Homo sapiens: one gene and its partners. The protein of the gene in region 3 purifies or fractionates together with the protein of the main gene of each other region. This does not show direct contact. Each region holds a gene or a part of one and is shown on either strand. Other genes may lie near its edges. The genes, in order: ATRAID, DNAJC19 and SLC37A3.

What was found.
Region 1: the proteins of SLC37A3 (region 3) and ATRAID purify together in Homo sapiens (affinity purification with mass spectrometry; 4 studies listed by BioGRID and IntAct, with this or other methods). This does not show direct contact.
Region 2: the proteins of SLC37A3 (region 3) and DNAJC19 purify together in Homo sapiens (affinity purification with mass spectrometry; 3 studies listed by BioGRID and IntAct, with this or other methods). This does not show direct contact.

Annotation. Positions count from the first base shown.
Region 1 is NC_000002.12:27,210,215-27,213,962, reverse strand, and holds the start of ATRAID (all-trans retinoic acid-induced differentiation factor isoform c precursor), read right to left. Parts: upstream 1,923-3,748; 5' UTR 1,595-1,922; coding exon 1,496-1,594; exon of another isoform or gene 1,356-1,495; intron 1,335-1,355; exon of another isoform or gene 1,176-1,334; intron 787-1,175; coding exon 665-786; intron 1-664. UniProt on the Homo sapiens protein: Promotes osteoblast cell differentiation and terminal mineralization. Plays a role in inducing the cell cycle arrest via inhibiting CCND1 expression in all-trans-retinoic acid (ATRA) signal pathway.
Region 2 is NC_000003.12:180,988,099-180,991,846, reverse strand, and holds the start of DNAJC19 (mitochondrial import inner membrane translocase subunit TIM14), read left to right. Parts: upstream 1-2,110; 5' UTR 2,111-2,244; coding exon 2,245-2,247; exon of another isoform or gene 2,248-2,515; intron 2,516-3,617; coding exon 3,618-3,669; intron 3,670-3,748. UniProt on the Homo sapiens protein: Mitochondrial co-chaperone which forms a complex with prohibitins to regulate cardiolipin remodeling.
Region 3 is NC_000007.14:140,342,919-140,346,666, reverse strand, and holds part of SLC37A3 (sugar phosphate exchanger 3), read left to right. Parts: intron 1-696; coding exon 697-798; intron 799-1,403; coding exon 1,404-1,451; intron 1,452-3,103; coding exon 3,104-3,255; intron 3,256-3,748. UniProt on the Homo sapiens protein: Unlike the other SLC37 members, lacks glucose-6-phosphate antiporter activity.

The DNA of each region.
Region 1 (3,748 bases), on a different chromosome or scaffold from region 3:
AAAAAAATAAATAAATAATAATTTAAAAAAGGTATTACTCTGGAACTTAGTAGTAGTAAATATTCACAAAAGATGTTGGAATTGAAGGATGGATATTTCCTAATTTGGTAGAGGAAGGCAATTTCAGGTATGGAGAGAGGCCTGAACAAAGGTGGAATGCCTTTGAGGGCAGGCAAATCTGGCTGGTGCAGACCATTATGGAGGTTTGAGCGGACAAGTAATTGGAAATAATGTTGGAAAAGTGGGTTGGGACTAGTATGGTACTTAATGGTTTGAATTTTGTCCTGAGACAAAATTTAATACTAAATATAGTATTAAAGCAAGAGAGTGATAATGGAAAATGTTGGTTTTCTAAAAGCTTAATACAGAGAAGTATTTAGGTAGATGAAGGAAAGAAGAGAATGGAAGCAAAACATAACATTTTGAGTTTGAAGTTAGGGTGCACTCAGTAGGAAATGCTTAATAGGAAGCTAGAGGTACCCGTATGTACCTGGAGTGTGGAAAGGTTAAAAAAGACACTAAAGAGATCTAGTTTTGGTAGACATCTGCGTGATGATTACAGCTGAAACCATAATAGGTGGATTCTTTAAATAATATAAGGGTATAAAAGCAGCCAGGCTAAGGAATGGCCTGTATCCAGCATCTAGGGATGTCTTCCCCTCACCCCAAGATGGTGCCCTTCTGATTCAGGCAGCAACGGGCATGCAGCATTAGCTCTCGTGTCGTTTTACAATAAAAGGCCACTTTTGACAAATTTTGCACGCTCCCTGGACATTGGGTGCATATCTGCAGAAGAGAAAGAAACATTAGAACTCCAGAAAGAAAAGCCAAGAAAAGAACAAACGGCGATCAAGAATTAACTGCCAGTACACGTTTCCAGAATTCCTCTAACACGGGGCCGATAAATGGATAAACGGCTCGTGTCCCACCCTTGTAACAGGCTAGGCTAGGAGATGCCATCTCTTCCTCCAGAGTCCTGCGCCGAATCAGCTCCCGACACTTTCAGTACCAGATATCGCACAGGGAAGGTCCTCATCTCTGAAGATCACTATTCGAACTTATTTATTATGCTTTCTGCAGAGACTTCTCAATCTGACAGCCCTAGTTTGGCGCGGTGTAAAACGACCGCAGGTACGTAAAGAACTCATCAAGCATTACAAAAGTACAGCCCTACCACCGCACGATATATGGCGTTCGTGCGTAGAGAGATTACACAAGAGGCAGAGGACCCGTCTGTAGAAAGAACTTAAAGTTATTCTAAAATTAAGGGGCGAAATCAAGTTTCACAGGTCTTTGAAAGTCGGCAGGACTGGGGCGCCGAAGGCCTGCACGACGTGAGTACTTGGGAACAGGACCTGGCTGGGCAGGGTCGGGAAGCGTCAGGGACGAAATCAGAACCGCAGGCCCGCCGAGGAGAAGGGGGAGCCGCTGGCGAGCGCGACGCACGGCTGGCCAGCGACCCTGCTTCAGCCCGACCTCAAACTTGCTTCTGTACCTCGGGTAGCGCCAGAGCCCTTTCCACGCCCAGAGCGAGGAGCAGGGCGGCAGCCCAGGGCACCAGGGTCGTAAGACTACCCGGGTCGTGAGGCGCCATTTTCCGTTCCCTTGGTGCTCCGCTGCTCGCGCGACCCGGCCCCGCGGCCCCGCCCCGCAGCGCGTCAGGCCCTCTTCCCCGGGCGTGGCCTAAGCGGCCCGGTCCAGTCGCCCTGGGGCTGCTTGGGGGCTTTTCCTGCTCGTGGAGCTCTGCGCTGGTCTTCATGCGCCCTAGCCCTCTTTCGGGGATACTGGCCGACCCCCTCTTCCTTTTCCCCTTTAGTGAAGGCCTCCCCCGTCGCCGCGCGGCTTCCCGGAGCCGACTGCAGACTCCCTCAGCCCGGTGTTCCCCGCGTCCGGACGCCGAGGTCGCGGCTTCGCAGAAACTCGGGCCCCTCCATCCGCCCTCAGTAAACATGGCGGCACGGCGAGCGGGGCGGGCAGGGGGCGGGCAGGGGGCGGGGCCCCCGCGGGCTCCCGGCCAGGGCTCTCGGCCGGGCTCTGGCTACCCACGTGTGGAGACCGGGCAGGTGGGCCTGGAGAGCGTGAGCCGGTGCCGAGAGGCACCGGGGAGCGGCGTCTGAGCCGGGGCGGGGACAAGGGGGCGGGGAGGGGCGGAGCGAGCCGGCCTCCGGCGTGGGTCTGAGATCTTAAGTGCGAGCGGTAAGGTGGTGGTCTCCGCCGCGTAGAGGGAAGCGGGAAACCGAGAAAGAACGAGGGTGAGGGTGATGAGGGAAGGGCAAACCTCAAACTCCAGCGGGAGGACACGAGCCTGGATCGCCCCGGGCACCTAGTCCTCTTCACCTCAATGCTGATAGCGCATAGCGTCCCGGAGCCTGGCGAGGAGGTAGGAGCGGGATAGACGCTTCCCTAACTCATTTTCTTTGCCTTCCCAGGAAAAGGGAGCGATGTTGATCTCAGGAAGCACAAAGGGACCTTCCTAGCTCTGACTGAACCACGGAGGTAAGGGAGTGCGTTGCTGCCCCAGGGTGGGCCAGCGCCCTGACTGAAGGGCGCCAGGGGATCCCTGCTCCCGGCGCGACAGTGTTGGTTAGGGCCAGCCAGAAAGCTCCTTAAAGCCGACCCAAGTGATCATCTCGAGTAGCCGAGCCAGGCTTCCCTTCCACATTACCCCCATGGTGTCTGCCTGGAAGTTCCTGAAAGGTTTACGTTTAGCTGGCTGGCAAATTTTCTAAGGTGTTAGTAGCTATTAGCATTTTAAGGAGGGCCCCCAAAGCCTTTCACACCTTGAGGAATTATAGGCCCCAGGACAGATTTTGAGGGAATCTTTTTGGAACAGTTAGTCCTGCAGTGGTCTCATTGCCTTTTGTAGGAGTCAATGCGATCCACTGCAGTGTGTGACCAAAGTGAGTTCAGGTTTTTATTTTTATTTTTATTTTTATTTTGAGACGGAGTCTCGCTCTGTCGCCCAGGCTGGAGTGCAGTGGCGCGATCTCGGCTCACTGCAAGCTCCGCCTCGCGGGTTCACGCCATTCTCCTGCCTCAACCTCCCGAGTAGCTGGGACTACAGGCGCCTGCCACCACGCCTGGCTAATTTTTTGTATTTTTTAGTAGAGACGGGGTTTCACCGTGTTAGCCAGGATGGTCTCGATCTCCTGACCTCGTGATCTGCCCGCCTCGGCCTCCCAAAGTGCTGGGATTACAGGCAGTGATGTGGGACCCCTTTTAAAAACCTGAACTTGGCCTGGCGCGGTGGCCAGGCCACCGATCCGCCAAGGCAGGTGGATCGTCATGTCAGGAGTTTTGAGACCAGCCTGGCCAATATGGTGAAATCTCGTCTCTACTAAAAATACAAAAAAAAAAAAAAAAAATTAGCTGGGCGCGGTAGCACATGCCTGTAGTCCCAGCTACTCAGGAGGCTGAGGCAGAAGAATCACTTGAACCCAGGAGGTGGAGGTTGCAGTGAGCCGAGATCGTGTCACTGCACTCCAGCCTGGGCGACAGAGCGAGACTCCGTCTCCAAAAAAAAAGGGGGGGGGGTCCCACAATCTGCTGTTTGTGCCTTGGCATGTTATAGTTGTAGTGAAACAACAGCTAGCTCTTGCTTTTGGCCGCCCTCTTTCTGGAGAGATGCGAGACCATAGCGTTTGGATCAATGTAGGGTGTTTAGAAAACTACAGATCTGTTCTCAGAATCTGGTCTGTTGCTAGGTCAGGTTTTTCCTGTCTTCCCTGGGGCTCTCTCAGGCCATCCA
Region 2 (3,748 bases), on a different chromosome or scaffold from region 3:
CAAGGAGAAGTGACTTACCTGATTTAAAAATTTGGGATGAGAAACTAAGAAGATGTGCTTGAGTCCTTTCTCATTCTTTTGTCCCTACCCCCTCTTTTGTCTTTTATTACTTTCTATAGTAAACTAAATAATGTGTTCCAAAGATTTCAGGTCCTAATACTTGGAACCTGTGAATGTTACCTTATATGGCAAAGTGTTGGAAACTATGATTAAGTTAAGGATCTTAAGAAGGGGAGATTATCCTGGATTATCTGGGTAGCTGGTAAATGCAATTACATATATCCTTTAAGAGGAAACCAGAAGGAGATTTTACAAACAGAAGAGAAGGACAATGTGAAGATGGAAAAGTTGGAGCAGAGTGAGATTTCAAGATGCTGGCTTACAAGACTGCAGTGATTCAGTCACAAGTCAAGGAATGCTGGCAGTCACCAGAAGCTAGAAGAAATGAGGAATGATTATCCATTCATCAGTCAGTGGACATTTAAAAAGATTACTTTTCAAGGCTGTTTCTAGGATCTTGGCAGGTAGGTAAGAGGCAACCAGACTTAAGATTCATGAGTGAGGTATCATGAGAATGAGGAAGGCTTCTACACTCCAATTTGCACTCTGGCTTCCCTCATAATAATAGCCCCACACTGAGTGATGACCATAAGCAGAACACAATATGTGCATAATCTCTACGTTCACAAAAACTCGGCAAGGTAGTTATCATTACCTTCATTTTACAAATGAGGAAGAAACTCAATCAGAAATAACTTTTCCAAGTCACAGTATTAGTAAGTGACAGAGCCAGGTTACCTCCAGTTTGATCTGCCACCAAAAAAAGAGCTATCTCCAGCTCAACAAAATGTCTTGCTGTGTTGCTACTCCCAATTTCCTGAGTCTGGGTTTTGTAAAGTCTCAAAGCTAATTAGAGTCTACTGTAAATCTATTCCTCCAGAAACTGCATTACACAGTTTGTACATACCAAAAATATGCATAATAAATTTTTCCAGATAGCATTCTAGCTTGTTGATGCCAATTTGGTCCCAAGGTCTTATGCCTCACTTGATTATTTATTTTGTAATTGTTGGGTAAAAACCAGATAAAAGAGAGGCAAAAGAGGAAGTTATAAACTTAATGCTAGTGTCTTAGTGCTGGATGTCACCTTAAATCATGTGTTGACAATAAATTACATCACAAAAACCTTAGCGCTAGAAGAGCTCTTGGATTATCAAATGCAAACTGCTTTTACAGATGAGGAAAACAAACCCAAAAATTTTGCATATTTGTTTAATAACTAACAAACTCATCAAAGCAGAATTGCATTGCAATGTAAACGGATATTTAACACTGTAAATTCTGAGTGGGAAGTAACTCCAAACTTATTTTGATCATGCAAACGTTGCATTGTAAAATTCCATTATTGTCTCCATTATTTTTTTCTTCTCAAGCATTTATGTAGGGATGTATGAAACTGATGTCCACGTAAGGGCAAAATCCAGCCCTACTTTTTATTTTGGGTGAGGAGGAAAACTTTTAAATAGCCCTTTTCAGTTGTAGGATCTTGACATTCCATGTTCAGAATATGAACTGTCTTTAATCCCATTCTACAAAACGAAAACCCAAATATTCACAAAGTCTTGTCAAGTCACATCCTTAAATGAAGTTCTTTTACATTAAAAAATGCTACCGAGCAATCCCTGAAACACAGTGTGGTTGGTTTCATTTGTTTTTCTGGGCATCTCGTTTCCTACACTGGGTTACAACATATTTGTTTGGGTTCGTGGTGGAAATGTCACAGCATGTTTAACTACATTCATTACCCTTGACAATTATTAACATAAAATAAAGGCAAAACGAGGTGCTAAGATGTAGGGGGAAAAAATCGGTCTGAGTAAGGCTGCCCATGCCCTTCCCTGCAAGAATTTCCAAATACCCACCGCCCAGGAGCAAAGGACAGAAAACACAGAGAAGCCCCACCCCTACACCCAGAAATAAAGAGATCCGCCCACCCTTCAACCAACCCGAAGTCGCTTTCTCCGCTCTGTCCACTGCTTGAGCGACTTTCCTTCTCCTCCGCGTCCCCTTTTACGACAGTTTTCCGGCCTAGTTTGCGGCTGCTCCTGCCGTGTTGCGTAGGGCGCCTGTGCTTGAGGTTGGGGGTTGCGTCGCTCTCTGGTAAAGGCGTGCAGGTGTTGGCCGCGGCCTCTGAGCTGGGATGAGCCGTGCTCCCGGTGGAAGCAAGGGAGCCCAGCCGGAGCCATGGTGAGTGCGGCCTTCCGGTCTTCTTGGCGACCTCCGGCCCAGGCCTCAACCTCAGCTCCCCGCCTCGGAGGTGTGGAGTTGAAGTTGTGCTCCTTAGTGCGACTGCGGGCGGGAGGTTTCGGTTATTGGGGAGTCACACTCACCAGGACACAACCCTGTTGGCTCGCTCTCTTGGGGGTTTGTGTTTTTACATCGTCTTTCTGCACGGTTCTCCAGCTTCTTGTCCGCACGGGCTCTGCAGGTGTTGCTTGCCTGGAACTCCTGTAAGGTCAGAGGCTGTCATGGACTCGGAGATTAGTGGAAACGTATTTGATTATAAGTGCCCTTGCCCTAACACATCTTCACAGCACTAGCTCCACTTTGCTATGTCCTTCTCTTTGGCTTTTGCTGACAGATGTCTTCTCCATGCTTCCTGAACATATTTGGGCCTGTCTTGTTAGGAAACAACAGGGCAGTGCCAAAGGTATTAGTCTCCTAGTTTAGCCCACGTTTAGCCTCGAAAATGCGTTGTTAGAATTTTACAGGAGCCGTCTGTAAACAGTTTTTCCTTCTGTAGCAGAAACCTTATTTCCACATTTTTTTTTTTTTTTTTGAGACAGAGTCTTGCTCGGTCGCCTAGGCTGGAGTGCAGTGGCACAATCTTGGCTCACTACAAGCTCCGCCTCCCGGGTTCGCCATTCTCCTGCCTCAGCCTCCCAAGTAGCTGGGATTACAGGCGCCCACCACCACGCCCAGCTAATTTTTTTTTTTTTTGTATTTTTAGTAGAGACGGGGTTTCACCATGGTAGCCAGGATGGTCTCGATCTCCCGACCTAGTGATACGCCCGCCTCGCCTCCCAAAATGCTGGAATTACAGGCGTGAGCCACCGCGCCTGGCCTATTTCCACTACTTTTGATTGAACTTTAATGTGACTTAATTTGTCTGGTGATGAAAGAAGTTTTCAAAGGGAGGGAATCATCTTTTTCACTATTGTAAAGATAAATAAGCAAGTCGAACTTGCCCTCTTTCCCATATGATGAATCCTGTAACTTTAATGCATTCAGCATAACAGATGCAGTAGTTTTAAAGATTACTGGACAGAATATTTCCGCCTTAAAAGTTGTTTCTCTGCCAGGCATGGTGGCTTATGCCTATAATCTTAGCACTTTGGGAGGCCAAGGTGGGAGGATTGCTTGAGGCCAGGAGTTCAAGACCAGCCTAAGCAACATAGCAAGACTCCGTCTCTTAAAAAAAAAAAAAAAAAAAGAAAAAAAAAAGTTGTTTCTCCTATTAAAATGCAGTTTGTAATGAGTTGGGGATGGAAGAATGGGCAAAATGAGAAAGGGTGGGAATTAGAGAAGTAAATATTTACTCTTCTCCCCCTTACCAGGCCAGTACAGTGGTAGCAGTTGGACTGACCATTGCTGCTGCAGGATTTGCAGGTTTGTTTATGGTTTGGGGATGGAAGTGAAGTCGGGGAGATTGGAGATTTAGTTTACTTATTCTGTTGCTTTTGGTTTT
Region 3 (3,748 bases):
TGGTCTCCCAAAGTGCTGGGATTATAGGCATGAGCCACCATGCCCAGCAAGGCATAGTTCTTAATTCATTATCTTTCAAATTAAAAAGAAAAATCAAAAATAGCATTCACAACTTGTTTTTGTAAGGGATAGCCGATGGCTTTGACAGTTTTTCCTTTTTTCATGTTTTGCTGTCTGATTTGTGGTCTCCTGTCCCCACTGGTCATCATGGTGATTTAACAGACAGTTTATTCCTAAAAGGAAGTTATGGAGGACCCCTTTTCAGGGAGTCAGACCTATTTTTTTTTGAGACAGAGTCTCGCTCTGTCACCCAGGCTGGAGTGCAGTGGCGCAATCTCGGCTCACTGCAAGCTCCGCCTCCCAGGTTCACACCATTCTCCTGCCTCAGCCTCCTGAGTAGCTGGGACTACAGGTGCCCGCCACCACGCCCGGCTAATTTTTTTGTATTTTTAGTAGAGACAGGGTTTCACTGTGTTAGCCAGGATGGTCTCCATCTCCTGACCTTGTGATCCACCTGCCTCAGCCTCCCAAAGAGCTGGGATTACAGGTGTGAGCCACCGAGCCCGGCCCAGCCATATTTTTTGATAGACTAGTGTCAGGCTGCTGCTAGTGAGACTAGAGGGCAAATGGGGAGCACGCCTCAGGTGAGCGAGCTAAATTAGAAGTGATTTTGATTGCTCGACACTCTGCTTGAAGGTGGAACTTTGCAAGGCTTCATCTCTGATGTACTACAGAAGAGAGCGCCGGTTCTTGCCCTGAGTCTGCTTCTGGCAGTTGGGTCCCTCATCGGGTATAGTCGTGAGTATTCTTTTGCAATTACTAATTCCTTTGCTCCCCTAATCTGGTTGGAATAAGGCATTTGTTTGGAGTCAGTGACCAGTGCTGGGGAGAGCCTGGAGACCAGCTTCAAGGCCCGATATGCCACCTTTGCATTGTCCTGTGAATGCCTGGGAAACCTGTCATCACATAGTTTTATTTGTCTTGGGAGGAAACTGGCATCTCTTTTGCTTTGTTAATTTGCTTAAAAGCTTGCTTGGGAGTGTATATGCTTTGTTTGGGGGAGGCTCCAGAGGCACAGCATTATAGCCAATAAAACAATAAAAAGGGAACAGGTTTCAAAAGCGGAAAGATGGTAATTAGTAGGTTTGGTATATTCCCTTAAGATGCTGCTGAGACAGGAGTAGAGCTTTTCTTTAGCTTTTAGAAGTCTTGTTAGCTTGAGCATTAGCAAGAGGCAGACGTTACAAATCAGAGTTGAAAGAGGCAGAGAGAGTTGTGTCTCTTTGTTGTCTCTGGGAGTGATTTGTGAGGTCACGGAGATTCAGATCTTCGCGTACGGTTGGCAGAGGCACGTGGAGTCTGCTTTTCAAGCCACCATGGTTTGTCTGTGTCTTCCCTCACAGGTTCTCCAAATGATAAGTCCATCAATGCCCTTCTGATGACTGTTACAGGTACGGCACATGGCTCTGCTCCACCATGCTTCTGTTGCTCTGTAAATTCAGAGGAAAAGGGAAACTGTTTTCTCCCTCAATTTGAGTAGTACCGAAACCTTAATTACAGAGAATTCAAATTTTAAAAGGAAAAACGCCTCCTTTTCCAGATTCTTTTTCTCTGCTGTTTCTTACATGACCTCCTCAGTCCTATTGTGACAGAAGCGGTCCCTATTGACAGAGATTTTCTACGATTTTTGATTGCTGCCCCAGCTTCTGCTCTTACCTCTAAAAGTGACTTAGAAAAATGCCACATGGGAGACCAATTCACCAGCTTTCAAAAAAATCCACAATAGCTCGTGTCTCCTCCTGTGTTGGAATTGGTCAGCATTTTGTCACTTGAGCACTAGATAAAATAGTTGGGTGCATTTAGGGACTATGTTATAGAAAAATTACTTACTTTATTTATTATTTATTTATTGAGACAGAATCTTGCTCTGTTGCCCAGGCTGGAGTGTAGTGGCACAGTCTCAGCTCACTGCAACCTACACCTCTTGGGTTCAAGTGATTCTCCTGCCTCAGCCTCCTGAGTAGCTGGTAATATAGGCGTGCACCACCACGCCCAGCTAATTTTTGTATTTTTAGTAGAGACATGGTTTCACCATGTTGCCCAGGCTGGTCTCAAACTCCTGACCTCAGGTGATCCACCTGCCTTGGCCTCCCAAAATGCTGGGATTACAGGCGTGAGCCACCATCCCCAGCCAGAAAAATTACTTATTTTAAACTTTCTAATTTTATTTTTATTTTTGAGAAGGAGTCTCGCTCTTGTCACCCAGATGGGAGTGCAGTGGTGCGATCTCAGCTAACTGCAACCTCCACCTCCTGGGTTCAAGTGATTCTTCTGCCTCAGCTTCCCAAGTAGTTGGGATTACAGGCGCCTGCTACCATGCCCAGCTAATTTTTGTATTTTTAGTAGAGACAGCGTTTCACCATGTTGCCCAGGCTGGTCTCGAACTCCTGACTTCAGGTGATCTGCCCACCTCAGCCTCTCAAAGTGCTGAGATTACAGGCATAAGCCACTGCGCCCGGCCAGAAAAGTTACTTATTTTAAACTTTAGATCATGCTTGGGAGAGTGAGCTGCTCATTCTACTTGGGGTACATGGAACTGATTCCAGCAGTGGGACCAGATTCACCTGGGCCATCGCATGCCTGATTCATGGGCAGCCTCACTGAGAGCAGTGGCAGATAGAGTCACCTGCTCCATTGCAGTGGCTTTTTCCTCTTTGCTCTTTTTTTTCAATATTCCTGGTTGAATTTGTGTAGTGGAATGATCATATGATGCAACTACCGTAATAGAATTTATTTGACAAGCTAGTGCAATTAGTTATTAATGAATGTAAACTTCACAGGATTAGAAGGGCTATGTGTTTCACTATTTTTGTATCTTTGGGTTCTACAAAATATACTAGAGTGTCACATAATTCGAGAAGGGATTTCAGGAACGTGGATGTTAACTACTAATAGTTTGAAAATGATACTATCTGGGGGTTTCCTTTTTTTTCCACTTCTCTCCAACATATTAAGAAAACTATTCGGATATTATTTTGCCTTATGCAGTAGATTGCTAGTGGTTGTGAATTGTGTTTTAATAAGAACCTGTTTATGACTTCAGGATTTTTTATTGGTGGACCTTCTAATATGATTAGTTCTGCTATTTCTGCGGACTTGGGTCGCCAGGAGCTCATCCAAAGGAGCAGTGAAGCTTTGGCCACTGTCACAGGAATTGTGGATGGTTCGGGGAGCATTGGAGCTGCAGTGGGCCAGGTGAGAGAACAGGAGAGGGGCTGGGATTCTAGTGTCTTCCCTCAAAGGCGGCTGAATGTGAACCTGCCCTCTGGGCCTCAGTAGGTGGCACTCTTGTGCTGTAGAACGCTGTTCCCAGAGCCCAAGGACTTCCGTCTCCCCTCAGGACCAGCTGATGCGTCCTAATGTAGAAGGACTCTCCATTGTTTTTAGTTCCTTTTTTCTACTTATACTTCTAGATTCTTCCTGTCTGCAAATAAGCTAAGACCTCGTAAGACAGACAGATCCTTCTGCCCCAGCCCACCATCCCCTTCTTTCTTTCCAGGCTGAACTTGGTATTCCGTGGTGGGGGGTGCTTCTTGTTATCCCCACCTGGCATGTGGACCCCACCATTGCTGTCTCCCGTCTCCCTCTCCCAGACACTCTACTGCATACACGTTCCTTCCTGGGCCCCGCCAGACATGGCCATGGACTCTGCAGCTGCTTCTGAATCACTCGCTCTGCTTCCTGTGTA